Linked DNA regions of Homo sapiens: region 1 is linked to region 2. Evidence: fine-mapped expression QTL. A gene starts in region 2. The other region holds a variant in brackets. All regions are shown on one strand. Distances are from middle to middle. Region 1 has its middle 400 kb from the start of HTR1E. Region 2 holds the start of SNHG5 (small nucleolar RNA host gene 5).

Region 1 (8,344 bases), 860 kb after region 2:
AGTAAAGACACAGTTGTAGGGAAGTGACGTGAAAACTTTGAGCAGGTCATTAGGTATAATAATAAGGGTTGTCATCTCACTTCTAAGGTTTCTGGATGCCTTATATTCAGTCTATAGAAAAAACAATAGCACCTTAAATCAACTGCTGGCTCAGAGCAAGGAATGCTTTCTCTAAGAGAGTATCCAGTGGTGTGCTGGCATATATTTAAGAACTAGCTCAGAAAAATAAAAGGCTTTGATTTCTATCATTAGCTTATTTTGGTGGTATAAATGTTCCTACCATGTTTGACATCATTAAACACAGAAGTGGGAAGAGGTATGCTGCGTAGCACACCACTATATTGTATTTTTACCATAAAGACACAATAAACATAGATAACCTCAAGATCACAGGTAATGGCAAAATTTAGTGAACTGATTAAAATGTAGTAAGTTCTATTGAGTATTGATTGTTTTTAATTTTAAGTTTGTGCAACTTAATTTTTAGTAATGACTGTGTTTAACAAATGGCTTACAAAATGGGGCTAACAATATCTATCTCACATGCACATTTTTTCTGACATCAGTAAGAGTGTACAAAGATCTCATTTATATATCGTTCACCTTAATAAATTCTGGCTATAATTCTATAGATACCTTAGCCAGAGTGCCTTATGACGTTTTTAGAATAGTTTTTTCAATTCCTACCTGATCAAAACAATATTAATTCCATCTAGCTCTCTCTCTCTATATATATGTATATATATAATATATGTATATATATAATTGATTGAATAAATTTAAAAATACATATTAATTTATTATAGCATATTTTTCTGTTTGGACAATGAATGTTGTCAAATATGTATTATGCCTATGCTATCAACAGGAGAGCAACAAAAAGTTTTTATAAACCTCATGGGGAAGGGAACCTGATGTGGGTTTATTATGGTCTCTCCAAAACCCACCCATATGGTCAACTATTGGCACTAAAATGATAAATGAATCTTAGTTCTTCTACTGAGTGGAGGCATGGGCAACAAGCCACATGCTCTCTGGTTACAATTGGATTCCTTATTTTTGGAATATTTTGAAATAGCCACCAAATTCCTAAGAGATAATTGATTTTAAAAATACAATTTCTGTGAGATTTTTTATCATTAAATTCCAAAAGATCAGTCTTTTCTGTCTTTTCACACTGTATTCTCAGTGCTTAACATAGTACATGAAACATAGCAGGCACTCAATAAATATTGCTTGAATAAATAAATTGATTATTTAAACTTTTGTGTTTTTCTCTTTAGGAAACCTAGCCTAATTAAAAAGTGTGTCTAAAATGCCATAATCCTGTGACCCTCTGTATGATCCTATGATTATATGTTTATAATCAGGACTCAGTTGATTTTATTTCAAACATCTGAGGCAAATATAACTCAGGAGGAAAAATTTAGCTTCTCATGTCAACAAATGATAGAGGATCTCTGCAGAAATATGTTAGTACCAAAAATTACCCATTAGGTAATTACATAGCTTAATTTCTAAATCAATGAAGGGCTCTCTGTACATGAAGATAAATTCAACTACACACATATTTTTAAAAGCTAATAGGAGGGCTATAGCGTGACTTAGATTTATATAGTATAGCAAAAGCAGGCTTCATCAGCTATCATGATGAAATGTGTGGTAATTTTGTCCACATAGATACTTTCTGAATATCAATGACAAGAACTTGAACCCTTACCCCCGATTTAAAACTAAAAAATATAAGAACAACCTTCCAATGGGTGGAGGTTGTTATTCAGGTTCAAAATGTTAAACAGTACTCCAAGGAGTGAAGTCAAGTGTAGGTTACCAGACTGAAGTCATTTTCACGATGTTGAGGCAGAAAAGTAAAATTTGGCACTGACTCCAAGCAGGGAGCAGGTCACCAGCACAGAGAAGATATAGGTAATCTAGGATTTTTGATTAATGTGATGGGGTATAAAGGAGAACTGGTCAAAGCTTTTTTAGAATAGCAGGAAACTGTCCATGGGACAAAATAAACAACTTTTCATATCCATTTGCTTACAGGCTTTCATGACCATGAGAAAAGGATTGAATTGAGACGAGGGCTTGTGAAACATTTATGAAAGCGTTTCTCTATCTGAATGAGTTTTTGCTAGAAAAATATAAAACTTTCTTGACATGACAGTGTTTGTGTGGAAATTGAAATGGTGAAGATCCTCGATCTAGATAACTAATTTATTTTTTGTAGCTTCTTATATTTCTATGTATATGTATCTGACTGTGTATATGTAGATCTACAACTATCTTTATTTCTGTATATCTTATATAAATATATTTTATATATTTGGCATATTGATTACTTCAGCTGTCCCGAAGTCATGACGTTAGGTAAATTTCTCCTGGTATTGGTAACAGTGTGGTAGGTGCCTCTAAAATGAGCCCCCATGATCTGTTCCTGTGGGTATTCATGACGTTGTGCAATCACCTCCCCTTGTGTGTTGCTTGGGCCTAGTGACTCTCATAACAAATAGAATATGGTAAATATGATTAGATATCACTTCTGAGGATAGATTACATTAAAATAAAACACTCTGGCTTCTGTCTTGCTCAATCTCTCTCATTATTTTTTGCCCTCTTTCAGAGCCCTTGCTCTGAGGGATACCAGCTGTCTGTTATGAGTAGCTCTATAAAAAGCACCATGTGGCAAAGAACTGACGTCTCAGGTTAACAGTTAATCAGGACTAAGGTCCTTAGTCCAAGAGCACTAGAGGAACAGAATCCTGCCAGTGAACATGCAAGTGAGCTGAGAGGTGAACCCACCCCAGTCAAGCTTTGAGCCTTCTGTTGCCCTAGCTGACACTTTGATCACAGCCTGTCAGATACCCTGAGCCAGAGGATCCAGAAAGCTGCACCCAGAATCCTGAACCACAAAACTGAGAAATAATAAATGTGTGTTGATAGTGTGTTTATTAAGTTTTGGAGTAATTGGTTTGCAGTAATTATTAATATAAATAGATATATTCTTACTAGCAAAGCTATTATTTAAACTGTTTTGTTGGCCACTTGTTAACTCACGTTAAATTTGCAGCAAGATACAACTACTGAGCTTTTTAATTCTAGTCTCCTCTACTTCAAAGAGTGTGAGAGATATCTACCGCAGCAGTGTCTGGATCTGAATTGCTTACACTCACTTCTCAGCCTAACCATACATTAGTTGTGTATTCTTGAAAAGTTATTAAACTTCTCTTGACTTTATTGTTGGCATGCATCTGTAAAATGGGGACGATAATAGTATCCACAGACTCCCTACTACCCACTGCCTCCCTCGCCACATATACACTCTGAAATTCCTTGATTTCATGGCTAGTCTCCAGGACAAAACTATGTGGGAAAGACCTGGAAGTGCTGTTCAATCTAATCCTGTTACTCTGTAGATTAACTACAGATCATTGATCTACCTAGAAATTTTGTGAATAAATCTCTAGGAAGTCTGATACTGCTGACTAAAATGTCTGGAAAAATTATTCTTTGACAATTATAATTTAAAGTGTCAGAATATAAGAATTAAAAGTTACTTCAATGTCTTATTATATGTTTTTCTAGATCAGATGAGTAAAATGAAATAGTGAAAGTTTAGATAATTTTCAGGCTTTTACTATTTTATGTCCCTTTTTTCAGTTACAACTCTTACCACAATATTGTGCAATATGCCTGTTTTATATTCCTTCTTCCATTGTTCTATGAAGTCTATAAGGGCAAGAAGATTTCTTTTTCATATCTACAATTTCAGAAATCAGCATAGAGCTTGGCATACAATAGAGGCTCAATGAAGGTTTGCTGAACAAGGAAACACATGCATGCAAAGTCAATGATAAATACAGAAAACTTTGAAATAATTCCTTGTGTATTGATTTACATAAATGATGCTTTTATTATATAATTGAAGTTAATAAAGTTACAAATGAATATTAGAATTAATCACTCAAGAAGCATTTATCTAAGAACACCCCTCCTGACTTTTGTAATTTTTCTCTGTTCAATAGAGAATAGGACCTCTTTGGTATATGTGTGTATGTGTGTGTATTCATATAGTTATATATGTGTATATCTATGCACATATATAATATACTGTTCATGTATACTGTATATATATGCACACATATACATACATATATGTGAGAAGGCTAAGTAAGCCTGTTTGTACAAACACATCAGTGAGGCTGCTATCTTCAAGAAAGGAAAATATTCACAAATTTAGATAGCAAAAAATTGGAGTAGGAGCCTGTTCACCCAAGTGAATGTCTGTTTGAATGTGAGTAGGAGATATTTTGACATGGAGGAGGCTTCTGGAGTCCTTGCCTAATGAAGACTTTACCACAATCAACCTTCTGTCCTCCCGACCTCCCTCACCAACATCTCCCCTACATCTGCATTTCAAGAAAACCATGATGACAAGCATTGCAGAGGTACACCATCCACCTCTCTCAGTCAACAATTTTCCTCAGGAAGATTGCATGACTTCACTTAACACATGTTGAATATTTGAAATCACAAACCACAGGTTTAAAAGTTAGAGCCCTCTGTATTGCTGTCAGATTCTCAGTATGTTT[C/T]CTCACTTACCCTCTCTCCCCCTCTTTTACACACACATAATTTTTTTTTGCATGATATTGATTGGAATCTATAACCCAGAAAGACTCATAGACAGTGCCTGGTAAACCAGAGCATATGACAGTGTGAGTCATCCAGCAGGCTGCAAAAGAAGGAAAGCTGGGTCACAAACTTGCTTTTCAGCACTATCTTGCTACAGAGGAATTGCTCTGCCTAATTTGATTAAAATGGCATGTGACATAATTGTCTTTTGAAAAGAAAACGTGCTTTTAGTCACTACATTAGGATGCAATTTTGTGATTAACATGAGCAATTTCAGAACAGATTTCTCTCATATGCAATGGTCTAATCAAATTAAGGTAAATGAATACAACATTCGTTAAAGTGATTTATTCAAATCCATTAAAATGAAACATGAAATTTAATCAAAGTCATAGGGATGCATGTATGCCATACATGTAAATCAGAAGTGGCTATCTCTGTATTTATGTAATCCAGTCACATCTGGATCCCCAAGCAAGACAGTTAGATATTACATAATATAATTAAGGGTAGAGAGCCTAAGGGAAGAATTAGGTAAAAGGACATCAAATGATGGAGGAAGAACTTGGGAGAGGAGTAAAGGAGACCCCATGGGAAGGCAACAGATGGAATGAATGTGTTTAAAAAGAAGAGGAAATCACAGGGAGAATAGGAGGAATGACTTCTGCTCAGTTGTTGAAATAGTCTATAATTTATATTTGCATGTTTGGTCTGCACAATTACCCCACTGGATAGAAATCTGTGTTCATCTACTCACTGACTCAACAAATATTTATTTAAAGCCTACTCTGTGTCAGGCTTTGTTCTTGATCCTGGAAATAAAACAGTGGACAACAGAGATATAGCCTCTTCCATTACATAACTTTAATTTTAGTTTGCAGAGACAATAGTAGCAACAAAGGCAAACAAACAAATAGGTAAATAAGACAGATTTTAGAGATGAGTCTCAGAGCTTATGTTAGTTTCTTATTGCTGCTGTAATAAATTATCACAAATTTAGTGGTTTAAAAGCAATACAAATTTATTGTCTTACAGTTGTAGAGGTCAGAAATCTAAAATGGGTTGGCAGGGCTGAGTGTCTCCTGGAGGCTCAAGGAGAAAATTCATTTCCTTTCCTTTTCCAGCTTCTAGGTGCTACATGCATTCCTTAGCTTGTGGCCCCACATTGCTCTGCTCTGTCCTCACATCTTCATCTTAAGTATGACTCTCCTGCCTAACAAGGGCCCTGGTGATTACACTGGGTCCATTTGGGTAATCCAGGATTATCTCAGGATCCTTAATTCAATCACTTCTGCAAAGCCTCATTTGTAATGTAAGGTAACATATTGATAGGTTCCAGGGATTAGGATGTGGGCATCTTTGGAGGGACTTATTCAGTCTAACACAGAGCCTAAGTGAATTATTCAACTTCCTGCATCTGGTCCAGACCTTCAGTCTTCTGAGTCCAAGTGCAGTAGTCTTTCTCCTTTCCCATGGCTGAATCCCATCACCTCTGTTCATCCTCTACCTCCTGCAGACACAGAGTCCATTTTTACATTCTTTGATGATTTCCACATTTTTAGCTGCTCTGCTTCACTCATGTAGTGTTTCTGAAGCCAGTGAGAACAAACCTAGTTTACTCCAAGGGAATAGTGACTGACAATGCATTAATATGTCCATATGTTTAACAGATATTTGCAGAGTGCTGCTTATGTGCTAAATGCAGAACTGCAGAGTAGGAAACAAAACATATCATTCTTGCCTTATTGGAACTTTCAGTCTTGCAGGAAATATAGATATTACATTATCTAAAAAGTAGAAAATTATGAATTCTATTAAATGGTAAGGAGGGCAACCTCAAGGCCCTGAGGTAGGAATGAGCTTGAAAAATTGGATAATAATTTTTTTGAAAAATCCTGCGACTGGAGCATAATGAGCGAGGGAGAGAAGGTGTCTCAGATGAGAAAAGCCTGATAGGCAGGATTAGTGTATGTCAAGTGGGGCACATGGGGAAGAGTTTAGATTTTATTTTAAAGTGCAATGGGAAGTTATTGAAGAATGTTAAGGTGATAGAAAAGTTATTTAATCATATTTGTGCTTTCAAAAGAAGAGTTTGGCTTTCATGAGAATAGAGGAAAAAGACTCAAGGTTGGAGCCAAGAGTTCAATAACAAAGCTGTTCTCATGAAGGGAAGAGATAACTGTGGCTTGGACTAGAACTGGACCATGGAGGAGACAAGAAGTAGAGAGATGTGAGATAAATTTTGGGGTAGGAGCAGCAAGATTTGCTGATAGATCAAATATGAGGGCACATACAAATTACATTTGACCCCCGGGTTGCAACTTTGAGAATCTGGATAGATTGTGGGGCTATTTATTGAGACACCAAAGACCAGAGGAGGAATGACTTTCAGGCATAAAATCAATAAAATCCTCTTTACACACTCTGTTAGGTCATTCTTGCATTGCTACAAAGAAATACCTGAGACTGGGTAATTTATAAAGAAAAGAGATTTGTCTGGGCTCAGTGGCTCATGCTTGTAGTCCCAGCACTTTAGGAGGTCAAGGCTGGTAGATTGCTTGAGCCCAAGAGCTTGAGGACCAGCCTGGGCAAATGGCCAAACCCCACCTCTACAAAAAATGGAAAAAAAAAAAAATGCCAGGCATGGTGACTCAAGCCTGTAGTCTCAGCTACTCAGGAGGCTGAGATGGGAGAATCACCTGAGCAAGGTAGGTCTAGGCTGCAGTGAGTTATGATGGCACCACTGCATTCCAGCCTGGGTGACAAAATAAGACCCTGTTAAAAAAAAAAAAAAGGAAAGAAGAACGAAAGAAAGAAAGAAAGAAAAGAAAAGAAATTTAATTGGCTAATAGTTCTACAGGCTTTATAGGAAGCATGGTGCTGGCATCTGCTCAGCTTCTGGGGAGGCCTCAGGAAATGTACAGTCATGATGGAAAATGAAGAGGGAGCAGGCACATCACATGTCAAAAGCAGAGAAAGCAGGGGGAGGGGGAGAGGAGGAGAGGTGCCACACACTTTTAAACAACCAGATTTTGCTAGAATTCACCCACTATTATGAGGCCAGCACCAAGAGAATGCCATTCATGAGAAATCCACAACCATGATCCAGTTGCCTCCTACCAGACCCCACTTTCCACACTGAGGATTACATTTCAATATGAGATTTGGGCAGGGACAAATATCTAAACTATATCAGAGACTTTACATTTGCGATTCTTGTGAAATTTCAAGTGAAGATATCAAGTAGACAGTTGGATAAATGAGTCTAGAAGTCAAAGGAGAAATCCAAGGTAAACATATAAATTTGGAACTTCCCTATAGAGACAGCACATAAAGCTATATGAATGGGTGGAATCAGTAATGGAGAGAGTGGAAACAGAAAATGGAAGGGCTTAGGAGTAAGCCCCAGGGAATCCACACATTCAGAGTGGGAGAAGAATCAGGGAGAAAGAAGGCTAAGAATCAGGACCAGAGATGCAGAGGAAACTCAGAGAAGCACCATGTCAATAAAGCCAAGAGGAGAGTGTCTCAAGAAGAGCAAGTGGTTAATGGTGTCCACTAAAGTGATCATTGTTTAGGCAACACACAGCAAAGTAACGTAAGTGACAGCAGTTTTAAGTTCCATAACAGACACGTGCAACCAAAGATTACATGTCAAAAAGAGGTATTTTTCTTGTTTCTGAGAAAGCAAAAAGGAGCCCCTCATTGC
Region 2 (8,344 bases):
AAGTGAACTATAATAAATGAAGTAACAAGAAAGATAAAGTTCTCAAATAGGTTGGACTGGACTGTACTTGATTTGGGATTCTGATTAAACCCTCATTAACTCTGACAAACTCAGCTATATGGCATGCTGAGACCTCAGCAGTGGAATAGTAGTACCAGGAGGAGACCAGGACTCATGAGAGTAAGACAAGGAGTCTGGTTCTCATACTGAAAATGTATCCTCTTCTGCCCCAAGATGCTCTCTACAAGATGTTACTCTACAGGATGGAGTAAGATCAGAGGCAGTGGCAATATTCAGACAGTTAAGTCATGTATACTAATATATACCTATAACTAAGTACTATAAGTATTGTTTGGATCCAGAACCAAGCTTTTGAAAAGGCAGGAAGGAGGGTCCCACTCCTATTAAAGGACTGGCAAAAGATAAGCAGGTTATTCTAGTAGGCTGATTCAAACAAAGGCTCTAATCCCAACTGGGGAACTGTTAGAAAAACCATGAAAACAGCTGAAAGCTCTTTCATATACACAGGGCAGTGAGGATTGATGTTAGTTCACAGGACACTTGACTGGGGAGCCAAGCACAGTGGATATTGGGTTTCTGGCAATAGAACTAATTTTAGAAAGCACCAAATGGTAGGTTTGAGCTTACTGTATTTTAAGATTACCTGGAAGCCTGGTGTAAGGCAGAGGAAAAATTCCTGTTGGCTGAAGTCACTAAAGTCAGACACGTAAATTATCTTTCAACTTCTGAAACCAATCAGAATCAAGCATATCCCAGTCTATTATAGTCAAGCTCCTTAAGGATTTTTTTTTTTTTTAGCCTGGTCTGTTGCCCAGGATAGAAGACAGAGGTGCAATCATGGCTGATTGTAGCTTCAACCTCCTAGGTTCAAGTGATCCTCCTATCTCAGCCTCCCGAGTAGCTGGAACAAGCGCATGTTACCACACCCAGTTTTACTTATTTATAGAGATGACAACTTGCTGTTTCCAGGCTGGTCTCTTCCTGGGCTCAAGCAGAGTGCTGGGATTACAGGCATGAGTCACTGCACCTGGTCCCAAGCAGCAGCTATGCTCTGGAGGGTAAACTTAGGAAACTGATCTTAACCAATATCGCCTGAGATTTTAGGAGGCTATGACAGACTAACAGCCTCCTGTGTGATTAGAAATTGCCATCAAGGAGTCAGTAATTGAAACTGAACTTTCAAGTTCAATTCCATTCAAATTAAACCTTTTTGGATCTGACTCTCATTACAGGAATAGTCTTACATTTGTAACTTCCTTGCTCAAGAATCTTAAGGGTATTTATAACATCAGTTTTCTGTCCTACACCTATCCACCCTGTTGGTACCCAAATCCTCAATATTTGTCTCAGACTCTGAACCATACTGTCTTTGCTCAGTTATTTCTTAGGCCTATTGTCCCAACATCTGTGCTGGTTTAGACTCAAATCCACTTGTTCTATTTTCAAGAATCCTTCATAGCTTGACTTTTCCTTGGCATCTTGTGCCACTGTTGACAAAACGGTTTTATTTCAGGAGTCTTGGCAGAGCCTAGCACAAGCCAGTGCATATAAATGTGGAGTACTAATTTCGATAGATAATGTGACATATTAAAAAATCTATTGGGAGGCAAGGGAGGTAGAAGGAGCTACAGGAAAAGCGGTCAGAGGGCTCCAAAGCAACCAGTCTATTTCACAACTTTGTCTTGTTTGCCAGCTTTAACAAAACGGTAATGGCACTCTTCCTTGAAAACTGGAATCTCAATAGTCTTTTACCACATACTGTATAACAGTGCCTGGCCCTATTCTAGGCACTCTTGAACTAATGAAACACAGATCTTAAAATTTTATGCAGAAGTTGTGGGAGGGGGAGAAAGACAATGATTAACAGAGTTTTAAGTACGGTAGGTAAGGGCATCAGAGATCAAGGGTATAAACATAAACACAAGCAATGCTTTCAACTGCCATCTTACACACACTACCTTCATAGTGAAGGTACATTTTCTATCTCCAAACGTTACATGCCTAAGGCTTCTCTCTCATTTTATTTGGTAGTATCAGATAGCATTATGTAACCCATCCTGCCAAATGACCTCTTCCTAGATTTTAGCAAGCCTGAATGTCTTTACCAGATTGTTTTATCAGTAACCTTCCCTCATGACCATACTTAATAAACTGCTATTATTATTCTATTGTGCTCCTTATTTTCTGTATCTCATTCCCCCATTTCTCAACTTAAGCATCCAGGCTTTCAAAATTATAGTTACATCAAAACTAAATATTCCATGATTTGCTTAGTAACAATTACTTCTAATTCCTGTCTCTCCACTCTTACACTGATCCAAAAACCCTTACATTGTACCCTGCACAAACCCGAAACATTCACTCACAGTAATTTGATTACAAGGCTGGTTAGTGGATTTTCCATTTAATGCTCCCCATGTTATTTCAGGACCTATTTAAAAGTAATAACAAAAAGGAACATAATCCAAAATTACATGTTTTATTTTCATGTTTGTAAAACGAAGAGCTTTTTTCTGGATGGTTTTCTTATCAGCTTTTCACACAACAGTCAAGTAAACCTCGTGGCACTAGCCCTAGAAAAGGAAAAACACGAGATTCTTACAAGACTACAAACATTACAACATATGTAAAAGCATTAAAAGTATTAAAAAAAAATATTGTCCTTATAACGGTCCATCTCAGAAGCCAGATCCGTAAAAGTTTTTTTTTTTCAACAGAAGTTCAGGTTCGGGATAAGATCATCACAGATAAGACCAAGGACACAATATTCACTGATCTCTAAGCAAACAGAAAAACTCCACTTACAGAAATCGTTGCAACTTTGGAACTTCCAAGACAATCTGGCCTCTATCAATGGGCAGACAGCGACCCTCACTGTTGGCAGAAAAAAAAAAAACCCAGGATTTTATAACACAACTGTTATAAAATCACGGCAACAAAATTTACTCCACCTCTGAATTACTGGTCTTAATCTCAGAAGCCGAATCCGTACTTATTTTTCTTCAGGTTATCAGCTTCGGGATAGGTTTCATCATTGATTAGACCAATCAGACCTTGTATATGTACACATAATACATTAAACTGCACTTCTGTGACACTGACTACAAACCAAGGTAATGCTAAAAGGCAAGTATTATAGTACAAATACTACAGAACTTTTAAGCCATACAACCTACTTCAAAATGAAGCTGCTAGTCAGTCACATTCGACATTCATTATCTTCACTGGCTACTCGTCCACACTCAGAACGCTGTTCACTGACAAAAAAAATTTGATTTAGTCTAGGTGTGGATTAAATGCTATGCTCAATCATAAAGTACTAAAACAACACATACCTGTTAAAAGTGTCAGGTTTTAACCAAGCGATTTTCCATTAAATATTCTCCCAGATGTTCTGGAAGTTTTTTCGTGTATCTAACAAAAAAAAGTAAATTTCAAACGATGCAACAGTTCCTATTCCTGTAAATCAACAGGTTTACTCCTTTAGTTTGGAAACTAAGCTTAACTAAGCTCTTACCTTTGCATCTTCAGAGCTGCTCCACTGTGCCACTGAAGACAGCGCCATTGTTCCTGCGGGAAATCGGTATTTAAGCATTCTCGCAGAAATGTCACACTCCAAGGCGTTTTTCCACACAAAACCCTTCCCCTTCATTAATCCGAATTGCACACAACGCCGCCTTCGAACAGCTCAGTTTCAATACAGGGTCGAGGCTTCCCATTTTAAAACAACGCCGACGGAAGGCCTTCGCCATTTTAGTAAAGGCCCTTTGCTGTTAAAACTAACCCTCCGCCCCAATTAAGGTGGTTTTTCCGCCGCCGCTCAGGCACATGCCGGAGGCCAGCAAGTTCGGCGCCCGTGGCCGATCAGCGGTTCCTCACGCCAAAACTCGGAGCCTGTGGCCGTCACGACTCAACCTCAGTACATGTGGCAGTCCGGCCGCACGTTTCCCACGTGCAAGCTTTCAACTCTCAGCACTCTAAACTCTTCACTAAGATGTCTTCACAGGATTAAAGCTCTTAACTCGGCCTGCGCCACCATCTTTTGCTCGGATACTAGCCCGCAATACCCACTCACCTACCACCCGCCCAGACGCTCGCGAAGGCCGACGTAAAAGACCGAAGTGCGCAGCCAGTAGCTCCTTATATAGCCTCCCGGAGTCAGAACGAGGCCGTCCCGCCCTCTCGCACCTATTGGACATGGAAGTAGACAGGGGTGTGGTCGCGAATTAGCGGGAGCGCGCGCGGTGGCTCTTCTGAGGCCCGTTCCGCGTTGTGGAGCGCGCCGCAGGCCGGCCGCGCGCCCGGCCATTTCCCGGCGCGCGCCCGCAGGCGCACTGCGAAGCGTCTCTTACGAGTCTGGCGGCCGACTTGGCCCTACGTGGCGCGGGTGTGGCGCCAGAATTCAAACAGCTGCAGTTGGAAACGACGCTTTCGCCTGCCACGAGCCAAGTCCGTCCAGGACAGATTGGGTCCGAGAGTGGACACAAGTTTTGCAGCGCAGGGCGGCCTCAGCTTAGGACCGATTCGAGAAGCTGGGCTGGCTGGCTGGCTGGCGCTGGGCTGTAGTGGGCCCCCAGCGGAGGCCGCCGGAGGAGCGGGCGAGCCCTGGCCGCAGCACTCCGGGAAAGGGCAGTTGGCTGGCAGAAACGCTTGGGTGAAAAAGCGGAAAGCGCCACGTGAGAACAGCCCCGGCGTGCGGCCCTGCAGGGCCTCAGGGCGGGCATCAAGGCCCCATGGGGATCCATTCCTCCTCACGCTTCCTCGTGCCAGGCATCCGGTTACACTAAACGTGACCATACAAGTCTCCCTCAAACAGCGAACGTGAGGTTCAATACTCCATTTCGCAGAGGAGAAAACTGAGGCTTAAAACAGCCAGGTAATTTGCCTAAGGTCACACAGCTGAAATGCTTTGCTAATTTTTAACTTCTTTGTACTCAATTAGTTATATTGAAAACGAGAGAAAGATTAATTTGAGAAGTATCCCTGAATACTTTATCCAGACGACAAACACAAAATTCAAAAGCAGTGCTTTGATTAATTAGCATGTTCGAGTGAATATGTCTGCGTGTGTGTGTGTGCACACGACATTTGAACATTTCAGTATTTGAAAATTCAGGTCGTTCTTCACTTCTATATTTCAAAGCACTACTTATTAAAGTTGTTTATGTGTGCATTTGATTACGGTCCGATTCTGCTAGAGTGTGGGAGCAACACATCTGATTTCGTGCTCTGCTGTTTATTTTTTCTTAGAACAGTGCCTAGCATTAAGTAGGTTGTCGGTAATGGTTAAATGAATGAATGAATGAACAAATACATTCGGTGGCTTTTTAGAAAATTAGAATGAAGATCAAACTTCACATTCAAAGATAGTAGTGAAAAGCACTTTTCTCTAACAGGAACCTATATGATGAAGTATTGACTGGGCCGGGCATTTTGTCGGTTTTTGTATTACTTTGTAATGTCTTACATAAATTTGCATATTGCTCATAGTAAATAGTAAAACAAACAATACAGTACAAAAGGATATAAGAAGCAAAGTAGGCCGGGTGTGGTGGCTTATGTCTGTAATTAGAGCACTTTTGGAGGCTGAGGTGGGAGGATTGAGCCCAAGACCCTGTCTCTATTGTATTAAAAAAATTTTTAAAAAGAGTTAACAAAAAAAGCAAAGTGAAAGTATCTTTCCACATGCCTGGGAATCTTCTCCCTAGTTGTACTCTTCAGCAATACCACTGTTAACAGTTTTTGAGACTTCCTATGCAAATGCAAATATATGTACTTCGTTTTTCACATACAAATGGGATCTATATGTTCTGCAACTTGTTTGTCCGTCTTGTAAATATCATAAACATCTTTCCATATCAGTACATATAGATGACTTTTTTTTTCCAGACAAGGTCTCACTTTGTGACCCAGGCTGGAGTGCAGTGGCTCTATCTCTGTTCACTGCAATCTCGGGATCAAGTGATCCTTCTGCCTCAGCCCACCAACCATGTGGGACTACAAGCACGCGCCATCACGCCCTGTAATTTTTCTGTATTTTTCGTAGAGATAGAGTTTCTGCCATTCTGAAGACCACAAACATCACCTGGTCAAAAGCCATATAAAACAGTGATTCCTTACCCTGACTTACCAGTTAAAATCTGGTAAGTTAAAAAATATCAAATTTCTGGGCCCGAACCTGGAACCTTGAAAGCATAATGTTCAAAAGTGGGACCCAAAAATCCACATTTTAAACAAGCATTAGAGGCAATACTGTCCAATTGGAATATAATATGAACCACAAATGCAAGCTACACACGTAATTAAAAATGTACTAGTAGCCATATATATATATATATATATTTTTTTTTTTTTTTTTTTTTTTGAGAGTCTCACTCTGTCACCCAGGCTGGAGTGCAGTGGCTCGATTTCGGTTCACTGCAAGCTCTGCCTCCCGGGTTCACGCCATTCTCCTGCCTCAGCCTCCTGAGTAACTGGGACTACAGGCGCCCGCCACCACGCCCGGCTAATTTTTTTTTTTTGCATTTTTAGTAGAGTCGGGGTTTCACCATGTTAACCAGGATGGTCTCGATATCCTGACCTCGTAGTCCGCCCGCCTCGGCCTCCCAAAGTGTTGAGATTACAGGCGTGAACCACCACGCCAGGCCACACATTTTTAAAATGTAAAAAGGATCAGATGGGCCGGGCGTGGTGGTTCATGCCTGTAAGCCCAGCACTTTGGGAAGCCAAAACGGGTGGATTGCTTGAGCTCAGGAATTTGGGACCAGCCTGGGCAACATGGCAAAACTCTGTCTCTACAAAAAAAAAAATCAAAAATAAAAAATTAGCCGGGTGTGGTGGCTGAGGTGAGAACATAGCTTGAGCCCAGGAGGCAGAGGTTGCAGTGAGCTTGTGCACTGAGATTGTGCCTCTGCCTTCCAGCCTTGGTAACAGAGCCAGACCCTGTCTCAAAAAAAAAAAAAAAAGAAAAAAGGAAAGAAAAATGAAATTAGTTCTAATCTATTTTATTTAACCCAAATATAATCAAAGTTTTTTATTTTGACATAGAAACAATGTAAAAATCATTGAAATATTTTCCATTTGTTTTTTGTATGCAGTAAATGAAATCAGGTGTGTATTTTTTACTTACATCTCAATTTGGTCTGTACATTTATTACTTTTTAACTTTTAGGTTCGCGGACACATGCACAGGTTTGCTATATATAGGTAAACTCGTATCACAGGGATTTTTTTATACAGATTATTTTGTCACCCACGTATTATGCCTAGTACCCAGTAGTTATTTTTTCTGCTCCCTTCCATCCTCCAACCCTCCACCCTCAAGGAGGCCCTAGTGTCTGTAGTTCCCTTTTTTGTATTCATGAGTTCCCATCATTTAGCTCCCACTTATAAGTGAGAACACGCAGTATTTGGTTTTCTATTCCTGGATTAGTTTGCTAAGGATGATGGCTGCAGGTCCATCCATGTTCCTGCAAAAGACATGATCTCATTCTTTTTTATGGCTGTATAGTATTCCATGGTATATATGTACCACATTTTCTTTATTCAATCTGTCATTGATGGGCATTTAGGTTGATTTCATATCTTTGCTATTGTGGATAGTGCTGCAATGAACATTTACGTGCATGCGTGGTCTGTACTTTTCAAGTGCTCAGTTGTCACATGTGGCTGGCCGCTGCATTGGACAGCACACGTGTAGGGTGATTCATATAGATGTTTGAGAACCACAGTCTTAGGGTAAGAGAGGTACTACATATGTGATATACAGTCCAATCCTTTTTTAAAAAAAACCTTCCATGTTATTATTATTCTTTTTTATACGGACAGGGTCTTGCTCACTCAGGCTGGAGTGTAGTAGTGTGATCACAGCTCACTGCAGCCTGGAACTCCTTAGCTCAAGTGATCCTTCTGCCTCAGCCTCCCAAGTAGCTGGGACTACAGGTGTGTACTACCACACCTGACCAATTTTTTTTTTTTTTGGTTGAAACAGGGTCTTGCTCTGTTGACCAGGCTGGTCTCAAACTCCTGGCCTCAAGCAATCCTTCCACCTGGACCTCCCAAAGTGTTGGGATTACAGACATGGGCCATCTTGCTGAGCCCCGAATTACTTTTGATTCAAAAACTAATAACTGTAACAAGGGCAATGCAAAAATGAAATTAACTCAGAGCCTGATAATTGACAACAGTGCCTTCCTGTGAACGTGGTCAATGACTATAAAGTCAGTACACAACTCCTTTAAGATGTTTATCTCTTCAGGAAACAAAGATGAACTGAGGGATGAAGCCATCAGTTATTGCTCCCATACCTAAAACAGTCAAGCGA

What was found. PIP is the estimated chance that this variant, and not a neighbour inherited with it, causes the effect.
Region 1: its variant is fine-mapped to the expression of SNHG5 in whole blood (INTERVAL, PIP above 0.99).

The regions. Positions count from the first base shown.
Region 1 is chr6:86,532,640-86,540,983 of GRCh38, forward strand. No RefSeq gene overlaps it. Among named protein-coding and RNA genes, the nearest start is that of HTR1E, 400 kb to the right of the region's middle. The variant C/T (reference allele first, on the strand shown) is at 4,596.
Region 2 is chr6:85,674,598-85,682,941 of GRCh38, forward strand. SNHG5 (small nucleolar RNA host gene 5) reads right to left here and starts at 4,136. Exons shown (of 6, transcript NR_003038.2): 1 at 4,097-4,136; 2 at 3,539-3,591; 3 at 3,357-3,435; 4 at 3,198-3,278; 5 at 2,827-2,895; 6 at 2,410-2,594. SNORD50A (small nucleolar RNA, C/D box 50A) reads right to left here and starts at 2,771; the gene lies at 2,697-2,771. It overlaps SNORD50B (small nucleolar RNA, C/D box 50B), which reads right to left and starts at 3,062; the gene lies at 2,992-3,062. RefSeq lists enhancers at 3,717-3,776, 3,947-4,106.